Linked DNA regions of Homo sapiens. The protein of the gene in region 2 interacts with the protein of the main gene of each other region in a pairwise test. Each region holds a gene or a part of one and is shown on either strand. Other genes may lie near its edges.

The links.
Region 1: the proteins of SEMA4B (region 2) and CPEB2 interact in a two-hybrid assay, tested with the Homo sapiens proteins (one study listed by BioGRID).

Annotation. Positions count from the first base shown.
Region 1 is NC_000004.12:14,997,609-15,005,498, reverse strand, and holds the start of CPEB2 (cytoplasmic polyadenylation element-binding protein 2), read right to left. Parts: upstream 3,019-7,890; 5' UTR 2,826-3,018; coding exon 1,164-2,825; intron 1,002-1,163; exon of another isoform or gene 978-1,001; intron 655-977; exon of another isoform or gene 632-654; intron 558-631; exon of another isoform or gene 342-557; intron 1-341. UniProt on the Homo sapiens protein: May play a role in translational regulation of stored mRNAs in transcriptionally inactive haploid spermatids. Binds to poly(U) RNA oligomers. Required for cell cycle progression, specifically for the transition from metaphase to anaphase.
Region 2 is NC_000015.10:90,204,330-90,211,348, reverse strand, and holds part of SEMA4B (semaphorin-4B isoform 1 precursor), read right to left. Parts: intron 4,868-7,019; exon of another isoform or gene 4,361-4,867; intron 1-4,360. UniProt on the Homo sapiens protein: Inhibits axonal extension by providing local signals to specify territories inaccessible for growing axons.

The sequences.
Region 1 (7,890 bases), on a different chromosome or scaffold from region 2:
CCAATTTACCAATCTAGCGGTCACCCAAAAATTGTATTGAGGGAATAACAAAAAAGATCTTGAATCAAAAAAGATCCGGAAAATAAAAATTCTGCCCAGTGTCATTTCACAATATTACCTACTTAAAATACACACGGCCCACATATTCCCTTGTAGAAGGTTAAGGCAACCAAAAAATGTACCGAAAGTCTACGAGGAAACACACCAATCCCAGATCCAAGTTCAGTTTTGTCTTAAAACCCACAAAACATGACCCCAACATTGAAAAGCACAGAAACTAAGACATTCGTGGGATATCTCGGTTTGAACCCGAGCGGTCACTAACAGTTTCTCTTTCCCAGTCCTGTGACAGCCAAGGAGGCGGCCCCGCGGGAACCAGGTCCTGCGAGGAGGGCGGTCGGCCGCTCCCTCCCGACTCCCTCCTGGGCCGGCGGCCCAGGGTGCGGCGCTGCCAGCAGGTTGATCGGGCGGAGCTTTGGGAGCGGCTCGACTGACCGCCCGAGGGGCTGAGGCTTCAAGGCGAGATCACCGCCGGCCAAATAAGAATAAACAAACTCCAAAGAAAAAAAAAAGCCTTTCCGCCTTCCCTCATTGGACAGCGAGACAGAGTCTTGGGCTCCTCCGCACGCACCTTCTCCAGCAATCATTTTTCCCCTGCCCAAGTTCACTTCCCACGGCCGCTCTTCCGAGGCCCCCGGCCAGCCCCCGGTCCTCGCCGCGCCTCCCCGCGTCGGGGGTCCGGGGCGGCGGCCCTCCAGGCCCAGGGCACAGGGCGGATCCCGGGGTGCGCCAGCTAGGAGGGCCGGGTTGAGACGCCGCGCCCGGCCGCCCGCGGCCCCGGCGCTATTCGGCCCCTGCCCCAGTCCCCACTGCTGCGCCGGGACGTTCGAGGGGGCGCCCGGCCAGCCGCGGCTCCCAGCGCGAACTCGTCTCCCACGCCCCCACAGCCCACGGTGGCCACTGCCCTCCCAACCCACCGGGGGCTGGGGTTCCGAGTCCTGTCACGGTTGTCCGCCCTCAGTTCCACTCTCACTTGGGCGAGTGGCCCCCGTCGCGGCTTCTCTCGGGGCTAAGGTCGGGTCCCCGGCTGCCCTGCCCCCGCCTCCGTCCCCCGCCCATGGTCTCCCGGTCCCGCGGCGCGGCCAGGCCGCCGCCCGCCGTACCTGGTGGTGGTTATAGGAGTTCCTCTGCTGCAGGAAGGCGGCGGCCGCCGCCTGGTGCTGCTGCTGGAGCTGCGGGCTGACGGGCGACCTCCGGCTCTGCGGCTGCTGCGGCGCCGCGGGCGGCGGGGGCTGCTGTTGAGGTATATTCATGGCGGGCGGCGGCGGAGGGGGCACAGCGGTAGCCGAGAAGGGGCCGCCGAAGCCGCCGCCGCCGCCGCCGCTCGTCGGAACGCTGAGCCCAGTGCAGCCGTGCGGCGACACGGGCGAGAAGCTAGGGAAGAAGGCCGGGTTCATGGACGACGGCAGCCCGGGGTAGAAGCCGTTCTCTGAGTCGGGGCTGGGCGGCGGCATGGCGCTGAGCGAGCCGCCGCTGCCGCCGCCCGGGGTGGTGGCAGACGAGCCGGGCGGCTGCGGCTGCGGCTGGGGCGGCTGCTGGGGTGGCGGCGGCTGCTGCTGCGGCTGGGTCGGCGGCGGCTGCTGGGGCTGGGGTGGCGGCGACGCGGTCTGCACCGACCAGGGGGTGCCGAAGCCGGGCAGCGGCGGCGGCGACGCGGAGCCGCCTCCCCCTCCGCCTCCTGGGGGCCCCCCGCCCCCGCCGCCGCCGCCGCCGCCCGGGTGTGGAAGGTCCGGGCTCTGCAGGCTGCTGAAGGCGCCCGCGCCAAGCGCACCTCCGGGCAGGAGGTTACTGGGACTGTTGAGCAGAGGGTGGTTGGGGGACTCCATGGAGCCCGGCGCGGGGTTCACCGGCGTCGAGGAGGCCAAGCCCGCATTGGGGGACTCGGCGGCGCTGCCCTCGCCCGCGGCTGGGGTCTTGCGAGGGCTGCCCGCGCCTCCGTGGCGGCGCCGCGGGGCTGCAGGCGGCGAGGGAGGGAGCTGCGGGAGCGGGGGCAGGTCTGCCGGACGCTGCCGCGGGGCGAAGTCCTGCGGCGAGAGGTGCTGCTGATGCAGGAGGCTGAACTGCTGCGGCGGCTGTTGCTGCTGGCGCTGAGCGAGCTGCGCCGGCTGGAGGAGCGGGCCGGCTGGCGGCGGCGGCGGGCTGAACCGACCGGGGCAGTGGAGCGGCGGAGGCGGCGGCGGCGGCTTCGAGTCCGGAGGGTGGGGAAGGTGGGGAGGGCTGAACTCTTTCCTCTTCTGGCTGCTCAGCTGCTGCTGCTGCCGCTTACTGAAGTCCTGCGGGGAGGAGGTGCGGCAGCAGCAGCAGGAGGAGGCGGAGGAGGAGGAGGGGTGGTGCAGACTCGGTTTGAAGTCCTGGGAGGGGAGGAGGTGGGTCACACCCGCGATCGTGCCGCCGCCGGGGTGGTGGTCGGGGAGTTTCTCCGTGGCCGCCGCCCCCGAAAGCGGCCGCGCCGGCTGCTGTGTCAGCCCCAGAAGCAGCTCATCCTGCATGGTCTGCTGATGCGCCAGGAACGGGGAGGAAGAGGAAGCGGCGGCGGCCGGGCTGCCCGCGCCGCCGCCGAGGGGGACGGAGAAGGGGGAGGCGGCCTCTAAGAAGCCGGTGACAGGCAACGGTGGTGGCGACAGTGGGCCGAAGGGCGTGGCGGAGGGCAGCGGGTTGACGGACCCCACGGCGTAAGGACCATACGCCTCGCCGCAGAACAGGGGCCCAGGACTGCTACTTCGGAGCGGGGCGGTCTGCAGCACCCCAAACCCGAAATCCCTCATTTATCAGGCCGCCGGCAGCGGGAGGAGACGCTCCTCGTCCCCTGCCCCACCTAGGAAGCCGCCGGCGCTGGGGTTGCGCGGCCGTGGTGGAAGGAGGGGGAGTCAGTGAGAGAGGGACACCGTGACTGAGCCAGGGGGCACCGACTTCGGCCCCACCACCCCTCGCGGCGATCGCCGCCGCCGCCGCCGTCGCAGTCGCCGTAGCCGCCCTGGCCGCTTAAGAACCCCGGAACGTGCGTCAGCGCCACCTCACAATCGCGCCGCCCCCCGCGGTGCGTCCCGGCACGCGCGGGCGCGAGGCCACCGCGTCCCCGTCGCCCCTCCCCGCCCCTCATTACTATGCAGACGCAGCCGAGGGCGCGCTCGCGCTCCCGGGAGGGCGGGAGCGAGCGGCGTGTCCCGTTGGGTCTCTCCGCTCCCGGGGAAATGGACAGGCCGGTTGGGGTGGGGGTCGGCTGGCAAACAGTGGTCGGGAGCATTGGGCGGGCGCGCGCACGAGGGCAAGCACGCGCGGGAGGGAGGGACGGTTCCTGGGCAACGGCCCCTCCTTGGCGCGGGATCCGCGCAGAGTCTGCCTGGGTCGCACGCGTCTCCGCCCCTCGCGGTGCCTCCTCCTTCCTGTCACCTCGGTTCCGCCCTGGGTGGGGAGAAGCCCTGCTGCACCACTCGGGCTTCCCAGAGCGGGGCTGGCCCGCGGGGGAAACTGAGGCCCGGGACCCCGACCGGCGCCTGCACTGTGCGACCCGCGTAGAAATAGGCGCCCGAGGGGCCCCCAGCGCAACGCGGGAGCCCGGCCCAGCCCGGGGGTCCTGTGGTGAACTAGCGTCTGGGCTCTGCCGGCTTGAAGTCCGCTGAGCGCCTCGCCGCGCACCTCTAGACCCCGAGTCCCCGATCTAGGGCCTCCTTGTAGCCCTAGGTAGCGCCCTCTAAGCTTGTTTCTGTTTTTAGGCGCTGGTAGGAGTGCTGTCACCGACGTCGTAGAGCCGCCGAGGGTGTTTCTGTAGGGTAAACATGAAGCCTCGGCTATATTCCAGGCATTTTCACTTGGGTAAGAAGGAACAAAGTCCCTGGAACAAACACGCTCCGCGTGGTTATTTACACACTCGGATGCGTGGAACGGGTTCCACGGCGAGCTCCCATAGTAACCCCGGGCCAGCTCCGCTTCATAAAAGCCTTTCGTGTGCCATCAGGGCTGCAGCGTGGGACTCCTCCCCACCACATTCATTCCGGCGTCCCCGCCCCTTCCCCCCAGGGAGACTCTAATTTATTCCTAAGCTTTATGAATTTTCAAGGGAGAAATAGTTCTTACATCAGGGAAAAAAGGAGGTTCTGACTCAGCAGCAGACTTGTTGAGACTTGCAAAATGGAAGGGAGAGAGCTTTCCATGGTAGAGCTCTTTAGAAGCATTAGAGGAGGAACTAATCCTGTGTTTCCTTTTGTATAGAAACATTTTACATAAAGTATTTGAAGGTCTAGATAAAGAATAACAGAGTGATCCATACTACATGATGAGGTGAACTTTATGTTTCTGTTTTGTAATTTTAACTGTTTTGCTTGATGCTTAGAGAAATGAAACTATTAAATGAATCCTAGAATATAGACTCAAACCCCCAAAGCAATAGAAGGTGGATTCAGACTTTACTTGATTTTGGTTTACAAGTGAACTAAGATTAAATATTTAATTTTATAAATTAGCATACTCTTACTGATGTAGGCAGAGTGTACATTTTTATAAGTCCTCATTCTCTATTTGAATTCTACTTCTGTTCAGTGTCTCAAATTTATATAAATCGAAATAAACATGGTAGAAAGAGAGCAACATTGCCCCAGGGAACTATACTTCATGTATAATGTTTATCTCTGCTATCCTGTCCAATGAACCAAGTTTTATGTTGCCTTTACAATAAGGAAAAAGTACTTTTTAAAAAACTCAAATGGTTCAGAATTTGGTCAGGTGAATAGAAAATTGGTTCAACTTATTAATCTCAAAATCATTTTTAACAGTCAGGCAAAATGTAGAACTGGAGAAGTATTTTTATTCTAAATTACAATGTCTAGAAAATAACCTGAGCTCAGAATTTAAAATATAAATGGTTATTTTCAGAGTATATATTGACATATTAAATATTCATTTTTTAAAAGGTATTGTGCAGGAAAAAAAACTACTTCTGCAACTAAGGAATGTAAAGTCTTAACAACGGATGATTTTTTTCCAAGTACAGTTGTATTTGATTGGAATCATTTGCAGATCCAACAACAAATCTTGAAATAGGGGGAAAATACAGGTATAAACCTTAGCTCAATTATCCACTAACACCGCAGTTAGTAAAGAGGAGAGAGCACATACTTTTAAAAGCTAACTGGTGCCTTTCTGGGCTAGAGTTTTGAACAAAAACAAGATTTCTTAGTGCTCTGGTACTAGTTTTGTCTTAGAGGATTTAGAGCTCTCTGAAACGGGGAAAAGCCATCAAGTTTGTTATTACATAATAATGTCAAACTTCATATTAAATACACCAAATTCCAAATCCTGCCAGGGCCTCTACTCACTACTTTTGTGAGGGCCCCATTTTTTTAGAGCAGAAAGTTACTTTCTGACATCTTGTAAGCTGGTGATCTTGCCCTTATTGAAAATATTCAAATGAAAAGGTTTCCTAGGGTGGAGAGTGGAGTGGGGTAGGGAGAAGGAGCAGCAAATACTGAGGAGGGACTATGGTCCTCTAGCAGTTTCCATGCCAAGATCTTATGAGTCCATTCAATGATTTTTTTGGTTTTTTACATGAAAATATTTTGACTCATGATCATTAACTAGGACCTTGACTTTGTATTTGACAGTCCCTTATTCATTTACTCCCACTGTCCTGGGCAAGTATTTTTAAAAGTATTTTTGCTACAACCCAATATATGTGCAAGTACACACTCATGCAACTGAAATAAAGCTGCTATTAAGCAATTCTTTTAATAATGCAACAAACTCCTTTTTATAATTCTATTTTCATTTTAAAATCACGTTTGATCTCAAATTACAAAGTTGGTTTTAACACCCTCTATCAGATTATGAACTGAAAAACCACTGTCCTAGACCATTTCAAACATTCTGCTCAATCTGAAAACCTCTTGTCACATCTCTCCTACATGCATCTGCTAGCATGTAGCACTCTCAGCTGCTGAGCTACATGCTTATTTCACTGAGAAAAAAGAAGCAACCACAGGAAAACTTCCACAGTCTCCCTGCATCTGTCCCTGCACACCTTGCCTTCCCTCTCGATACAATGGATGGCCCATCTGCCCATACTCCTGTCTAAGGCCAGCCTCTCCACTGGCGGAGCAGATCCTACCTCTAACCTACTCAAGACATGGGCTCCAACAGTTTTCTCTCTCTGTCCTTCATCATGACCTCTTTCCTCTCCAGGAAACACTTCCATGTGCACAAAAACTTGCTTTACTAGTTCTCACCTTTGAAAAGTAAAGCCAAAACCTTTTGACCTTATATTCTCCCTCCTTTAGCTACTGCCTTCTTTTTCTGCTTTTACATTGCCTGAACGACTTGCCCATTTGACTGAGTGTCTCATAGATACCTCAAATTAAACACGTCAAAAATTAAACTCCCTGCCTCACTAGGCCCAATCCCTGTGGCGCTCCATTGTTCTGGTTGCTCAGGCCAAAAACCCTGGAGTCATTCTTCACTTCAATCCACTTCTGTCCTTCTTGCATCATATCCAAGCCATCAGAACATGTTGCTTGTCCTACCTTTAAATTACTGGCATAACCTAGAGATACCGTGGGTTTTGTTCCAGATTACCACAATAAAGCAAATATCCCAATAAAGCAAGTCACACCAATTTTTTGGTTTCCCAGTGCATGTAAAAGTTATGTTTACAGTATATTATACTCTAAACATAAGTTCTCAATTATAGTCTAAACATAACTTGTAATTACATTTAAATAAGTGCACAGTAGCATTATTCTGAAAAATATACACACATTAATTTAAAAATACTGCTAAAAAGTGCTAATGATCATCTGAGCCTTCAGTAAGTCATAATCTTTTTGTCAGTGGAGAGTCTTGTCTCGACATTCATGGCTGCTGACTGATCAGCATGGTGGTGGCTGAAGGCGGAGGTGGTTGTGGCAATTTCTTAAGACAAAGATAGAGTTTGTCACATAAATTGAATCTCCCTTTCATGAAAGATTTCTCTGTACCATGCAATGCTGTTTGATAGCATTTTGTCCACAGAACTTCTTTCAAAATTAGTCAGTCCTCTCAAAACCTGCTAATGCTTTATCATCTAAATTTATGTAATATTCTAAATCTTTTTTGTCATTTCAGCAGTGTTCATAGCATCTTCATGAGGAGTAGATTCCGTCTCAAGAAACCACTTTCTTTGCTTATCCATGAGCAGCAACTCCTTCTCCATTCAAGTTTTATTGTAATATTGCAGCAATTCAGTCACATCCTCAGGCTCCACTTCTAATTCTAGTTCTCTTGCTATTTTTACTACATCTGCAGTAACTTCCTTCACTGAAGTCTTGAACCCCTCGAAGTCATCCAAGAGGGTTGGAATCAGCTTCTTCCAAACTCCAGTTAATGTTGACACTTTGACCTCCCATGAGTCACACATATTCTGAATGGCAGCTAGAATGGTGAATCCCTTCCAGAAGGTTTTCAATTTGCTTTGCCCTTATCCATCAGAGAAATCACTATGGCAGCTATAGCCTTATGAAATTTATTTCTAAAATAATACTTGAGGCTGTCCTGGTGACAACTTAGTGATTTTAAATTTTAAAATGAAAATAGAATTATAAAGAGGAGTTAGTTGCATTATTAGAAGAATTGCTTAATAGCAGCTTTATTTCAAAACAATCTCAGCACTTTGGGAGGCCAAGGCGGGCAGGTCACTTGAGGTCAGGAGTTCAAGACCAGCCTTGCCAACATGGTGAAAACCATTCACTTCTAAAAATACAAAAATTAGCTGGGTGTGGTGGCGCATGCCTGTAATCTCAGCTAATTGGGAGGCTGAGGCAGGAGAATCGCTTGAACCTGGGAGGCGGAAGTTGCAGGGAGCCG
Region 2 (7,019 bases):
GCTCCTGGGGCATGCCCCGGAAAGCCATTGCTACAGCCCCAAGTGGGCAGACGAAGAGCCTCTGCCAGAACCCCCAGGCAGTCCCAGTCCCGACCTAGGGCCTGTGCCATGGGTGCACAGACCACTGCCGTCACCTTAGGAGCCTGCCTGCCGCCTGCCTGCTCACAGGTCTACACAGGGACACGCTCAGTCCCTCTGCTCAGGGGCTGGCTCCCCTCTAACAACCCGGCTTCTAGGGCCTCTGCCCTGGGTCTGCCTTCCTGCTTTTATAGATGTCTCCACTTCTTCCAAGGAAATCGGGGTCATCAGGCATAAACAACCTCAACTTCCCACCCCATCTCCTCAGAGACCAAATCCTATGTCACCAACTCTACCTGTCAGAAAGCAGTTTTTGTTCCAATGTCCATTCTAGAAACTTTTGTGCCTCCCTCCACCTGCCTTAGACAAGCTCCCAAAGAGAACAGCCACCCCATGCCATCTCTGCCTCTCACCTTCCACTCACTCCTCCACAGAAGTTGGGCCTCAGCCAGCCCCACGTTCAGCAGTGCCAGCCCTGCCAAGAGCCCAGGGATCGCCTCGCTGACAGACCCCAGACACGGGCCACGCCACCCCGTCCTCTAGGTACCTGTGCCCCCAGTCTCAAGCATCACTCCGTGTCTCCCTCACATGCCTTCTGGGCCTCTAGCCCTCAAAGAGCTAAAGTATGTGAGCACTTTCTCAGCCCTTTAAACGGATTAAGTCATGTCATCCTCACAAGGCTGCTGTGTTTTATTACCTCTGTTTCAGGTGCAAGTCATCCCCGGGAGGAGTGGTGGGGATGCCGCCCGACCCTGGGCCACCTGGCTGCAGCATCTGTGTTGATGACCACCCTCCTGCCTCAGGCTTTGCTCCTGAATGTTCTTGCTCTCTAGGTCTGTCTGCTCCTGGCCCTGCTCTTCTTAACTCCGTTCAAGCCCCTGGGTCACACGTCCATGCTCATCACTTCAATGACGCGGATGCTGGCGATCCCCAAATCTCCTCATCCAAGTGCAGATCTTCCTCCAACACACCAGACCCCACAGTGCAGAAGGGCCTCTGTGGGTGCCTCCCACCACCTCACCGCCCCCTTCCAGTCCCACTCCCTGGCTTGGCATTTTGTGTTTGTGTGTGGCACCACTCACCTGGGTGTCTCACCATCCTCCTTCCTCAGAAGTCCAGTCTATAATCAAATCCTGCCAATTTTCTCTCAATATTTTCCAAATCCATTCCCCTCACCATCCCCACTACCGCAGTCCTGAGCCTGGCACCATCCTCTCTCACCTAGGCCACCATCACAGCAGCCTCCCAACCAGCCTCCCATCTCCAGGCCAGCTGCTATGCTGCAGCCAGAGGGCTCTCTGGGAGCCGTCACTGTTCTGCCTAAAAACTTCAATAGCACCCCGTCGTCCAAGCTCCTAACTTGCTAGTGCTTGCCACCCACCCACCTCTTGGTTCGACCAAGTGACATGGAACTGCAACTCAAGGGCCCAATTCTCTCATCTCCGGTCTGTTCAGGAAGTCCCCTCCACCCAGAAGGCTTTCCTTTTGACTAACTCACACTCATCCTTTGAGACTTGGCTCAGTTCCACCTCCTCCAGGAGGCCTTCCTGGATCCCCGGCTGGGCAAGGGCCCTTCTCCGTATGCCCATCATTTCCTGTTCACACGTCTTGTAGTGCACTGGTGACACTGTCGGATGATGGCAATGTTTGATGTTTGATGATGATGAGGAGGGTCTTTCTGCGCTCTTCTCTCTTTTTTTTTTAAGACAGTCTTGCTCTGTCGCCCAGGCTAGAGTGCAATGGCATGATCTTGGCTCACTGCAACCTTGAACCTTGGGTTCAAGCGATTCTTCCGCCTCAGCCTCAGCCTCCTGAGTAGCCGGAATTACAGGCACCCGCCATCATGCCCGGCTAATTTTTGTATATATATATATATTTTTTTAGTAGAGATGGGGTTTCACCATGTTGGCCAGGCTGGTCTTGAACTCCTGACCTCAGCTGATCCGCCTGCCTCGGCCTCCCAAAGTGTTGGGATTACAGGTGTGAGCCACCGCGCCCGGTCTTTGTGCTCTTCTTTTCCACCAAGCTGACAGCATCTTCAAGATCAAGACCATGTCTTATTCATATTTGTATCAACTGGTCAGGTGAGCTCCCAGCAGTTGTTCCATAAATGTTTGTTGACTAAACAAATGAATGACACAGTCCCAGTGAGAGTGCTCCAGCCCAGAGAGGGGCCCCAGATAAAAATGGGGCAACGTGGAGGTCCTGAAGCATCACACTCACAAAAGTGTGTCTGAGAAGCACTGCTACCACTCTGACCCCTCCCAAAAGCACTGAACACATAGAAGTATAACAGCTGACAGGAGCTCGAGACCAGCCTGGGCAACATGATGAAACCCTGTCTCTACCAAGAATGCAAAAATTAGCTGGGCATGGTGGCATATGCCTGAGGTCCCAGCTACTCAGGAGGCTGAGGTGGGAAGATCGCTTAAGCCTGGGAGGTGGAGGTTGCAGTGAGCCAAGATCTCACCACTGCAGCCTGGGTGACAGAGTGAGACCCCATCTCAAAAAAAAAAAAGAAAAAGAAAAAAAGAATTAAGTATGACAGGTGGAAGTATGACAGCTGAAAGTATGGTAGGGAGACAAGAAACAAGCTTCACGGACTGGAAGGGGCACAAGACATGTGTGTGAATCCTCACTTGATCACTGACCCACTGTGCAACCCCGAACAAATTCTCAGTCCTGAGAGGGCTGCCTTGCAGGATTGCTGAGAAGACTAAATAAACACAGTACGTGGCAGTGCAAAGCTCTGCAAAGATTAGGGGTCAGTGACCATCAATAATCAAGATGGGTTCTCCCCATGCTCCCTACTCCTCCCCTTGCTTCTTGCCTTCTACTTTTACTCTAGCCCTTTTTCACACGCAAGACTTAGGCCCCAGACACGTGCTGCTACACGGAATGGGGGTCCAACCTTACCAGACCTTCAGAAAAGCTGGAAACCTAGATTTTTATGTAAAATTTCCTAAGTTTTAAATATCAGCAACTAATTAAAATTTTTCTTTCTTTTTTTTTTTTTGAGATGGAGTTTTGCTCTTGTCTTCCAGGCTGGAGTGCAATGGCATGATCTCGGCTCACTGCAACCCCTGTCTCCCAGGTTCAAGTGATTCTCCTCCCTTAGCCTCCTGAGTAGCTGGGATTACAGGTGCCTGCCACCATGCCCAGTTAATTTTTCTATTTTTAGTAGAGATGGGGTTTCACCACGTTGGCCAGGCTGGTCTCGAAACTCCTGACCTCAAGTGGTCCACCCGCCTCGGCCTCCCAAAGTGCTGGGATTATAGGCGTGAGCCACCGCACCTGGCCTAATTAAAATTTTTCTAAAGAACTTGGAAGTCAAACAAAATGTATCTCCAGGCTGGCTGTGGCCCACTACCCTTCAGTTTGCAAACTTCTGTCTGAGATGTGTGCCTCAGTCTCCTGTGTGCCACATGTCTGCCAGCTCTGCCCTCTTCCCAACTATGGCCATGCAACCAGGGGCCTCGGCTGGATCCCCTGCCCCGTCCAGAGACTGACCTCAACAGATTTCTTTAACAGATGGAAAAATATAACCTGCAATTATTCAAGGGCTGAGCCGGGTCATCTTGCTGCTTTTGTACGATTCACAGGTGAAGCAGGAGGCAGCTGTTCTAATGGAAAGAATGTGGTTGCTGAATCGAGAACTGTGGCCCAAGGCTTGGTCCCAAACTCTTCTATAGCTGCATGACCTTGATAATGAGTTAGCTTCACTGAGCTTTGGTTTCCTCATCTGCATGAGATAAAGCAATGCACTTCCACATCCAACAGCAGTGCCTGGCACACAGGGAGTGCACCGCAATGGCCGCTTTTATTTGCTCTTCCAGTTGGCCCCCTTCCTAGAGGATGGGCCAAAAGATGCCAAAAAAGAGGACACGAGTTGGCTAATTTGGCTCCTCTTTAGGAGTATGGTAAAATGATGGCTTCTGTCTCCTACCTACCATCCCCACTGAAACCCCCTCGCCACAGGCCCCCCACCTCTCGGAAGCCTGTTAAGACTACAGGATGGGCTTCCAGATGGATCCAGGAGTGCAGAATAGAGCTTCCATGCACAACAAGTCAGATCACAGGCCTGGGAGGCAGAACTCTAGCAGCTGGACAGAACACTCCACCTCTGTGTATCACTCTGTAGCCACTCTACTCTTCTGTGACCATCTCTGCCACAGGGCAGGAGCCACCCCTTAGTGTTCCAGTATTCAGTGCCCAGAAGAGGGTCGATGGTGAGCTAATAAGTATAGAGCCGCTGTGGGCACCAGGCTTTTTTTGTTTTTTTTGTGAGCCAAAGATATTTTCTTCATTTCTTGCATTAGAAGTTCTCTCTGATGACATGCTTGGCCTGAGACTCCTTGCCATAGTCCTTAACTACTATACAACTGCAACCAACCACTTTACGGGGTTTCCCCTCTCTGTCAATTTGACAGAGACCTACCCATTCCCCCAGTTTCTTTTGTCATCAACCTTAATTAGGTTGATTTGGTGCTCAGCACAAAGGGCTTCCACCAACTTGACATACACAGTCTCATCACCGTTGGATGCAAGCACACAAAGATGGGCTTGGCGCTTGTCTAAGGCTTTGGTAGCTTTGCGAATTCCATGTGCTAGGCCATCGTGGATGAGGGCTGTCTTCAACAGCTCTTGTAAAGCAGCATTAATGTCCATTACCCCTCCAGCAGCAATGCCTTCCTCGGCCATGGCAGTGGGTTACGGGTGAAGCCGAATCTTGAACGCAACTGAGCCTGAGCCTCCGTCTCTGCATGACTTGGTGGCAGCAGGGAAAGAGCCACCAGGCTTTTAATTATCTTATCTTACAGACAGGATAGCTGTCCCACATCCAGCACAGGGAGGTCAGAATGTGAAGAGGAGGGGCAGGGAAACCAGCTGGGGAAAAGCATGGAGAATGCAGTCCAAGGGAGCAGACTTCCCAAAAAGCTAATCTGAGGGAAGGCAGGCCTCGACCACAGGAGTCTCGCGTTGTGTTGTTCCTGTTGCCCCGATCCCCAGGGAGGGCCACATCAGAGGCCCCCTGAGTCCTGCGCCAGCCTGAGCACCCATGGGGGTGGAGTGAGAGGCAACAGGCTCTAAGAAGATAAAGGAAGGAGTGATTGATGACATGACCCGAGTCTAGCCTTTTCTCCAGGCCCCGTGCCACCCTCTGTCTCTTGCCTAGAGGATGAACATGCTGGTATATCCAGATATGCCCCAAAAGTTGTGCAAGTTTAGCGCTCTCCTGGGTTGGCACAGAGGTATTTCAACACCAGCTGGATGTGGGTTGTGCTGAAGGCAGAGCAGAACCAGTGAAGGGCAGGCAGGGAGAGGCATGGTCCAGCCCCATGCAGAGGAGGTTCTTCAGGCAAAGGAGGACTTTGAAAAGGCTGAATCAGGAGCACTTAATAACTGGGCTATAATTAAGCAGGACCCCTGGTAATGACCTCCAATCAGCTCCTGGGGGCCTTGCTTTGTCTTTTCTACCAGGGCAGGCACTAAGCCTGACAAGGCTTGGCACCTAGCAGAGGGCCTGCATACCACCAGTGTGCACAAAAATGGATGCAAATAACCTCACCAAGCAAGGCTGGCAGGGGGTTTCTAGCACACCAGAGCAGAAGCTACCTTTTTACTACGGATGCAGCATGTGCCAGGCACCATGCCAAACACTTTACATACATTATTTCATGTAATCCTCTCAGAACACTGTGAAGATGGCCATTATTCCTCTCTTGCTAATGTGAAAATGGGCCTGGAGAAGGCCAGGAGCTTGCCCAAGGTTGTGCAGTTAGTAAGGGTGGCAAGCTACTTTACAAAGCCAGGCTCTGAGCATCCGCAGTTAGAGCGCCTTCCACTCACCTCTGCAGAGCCAAAGAGATGCTGGCCCATAGGACAGAGCTGGGGACAAAGGCTCATGTCCAGTTGAGACCATGTCAAGGAGGGAAGCCAGTAACCGGGCTGAGGGCTCAACAAGCGACCAGCATCAGGGCTTCCCAGGGCAGCCTTGACCCTGGCTGCCTCCTCCAGGGCCAGAGGGCAAGCAGCTGATTTGTGCCAAATGCTCCATTCTCTCTGCTCAATGGCGTTTTGTTGACTGCAGTTTGCAGGCCTGCAGATTTCTGTCCAATCTGCTTCAGAAATACTGCGTCCAGAGCTTTCCCGCCCGGCACTTCTGGGGCAGGAGGGAATTAATAACTCCCTTTAAGGCCGGATGTGGTGGCTCATGCCTGTAATCCCAGCACTTTGGGAGGCCAAGATGGGCAGATCACCTAAGGTCAGAAGTTCGAGACCAGCCTGGACAACATGGTGAAATCCCATCTCTACAAAAATACAAAAATTAGCTAAGCATGGTGGCGGGCACCTGTAGTCTCAGCTGCTCGAGAGGCTGAGGCAGGAGAATCACTTGAACTTGGGAGGTGGAGGCTGCAGTGAGCGGAGATGGCATCACTGTACTCCAGCCTGGGAGACAGAGCGAAACTCCATCTCAAAATAACAATAATAATAACTCCCATTAAGTGTCCAAATAAGGTGGCCCAAAAAGACTTTGGAGGGCCATGAGAGGAGGCGTGTTTTGTTTCTCCCCACGTGGCCAGGCTGGGAAGCACTGGGCGCCATTGTTTCTACTCAGCACCACTCCTGCTCCTGACCGAGGCTTTGGTCCTGGAGCTCTGCATGGTAGTTCCAACGCAAGAGAACCCAAATTCCACACACTTCTTTGAAGTGTTCCTTTCAGAGATTTCCAGCTGACTGTGGAGCCCCCAGTGGCTGTCCCCTCATCCTCCTCTCCCTACTGGCCACTGGGCGAGGCCACAAATCGGCTCCCTGCATCTTAAGCACCCCAGGAATGTGCTGTTCATCAACAATAATTAGGGTTCCCTATGAAGGACCCCAGATGCAGGGCAAGCTGGACGCTCCACTTCAAGGGATTTTGTTTTAAACCACAGACATAG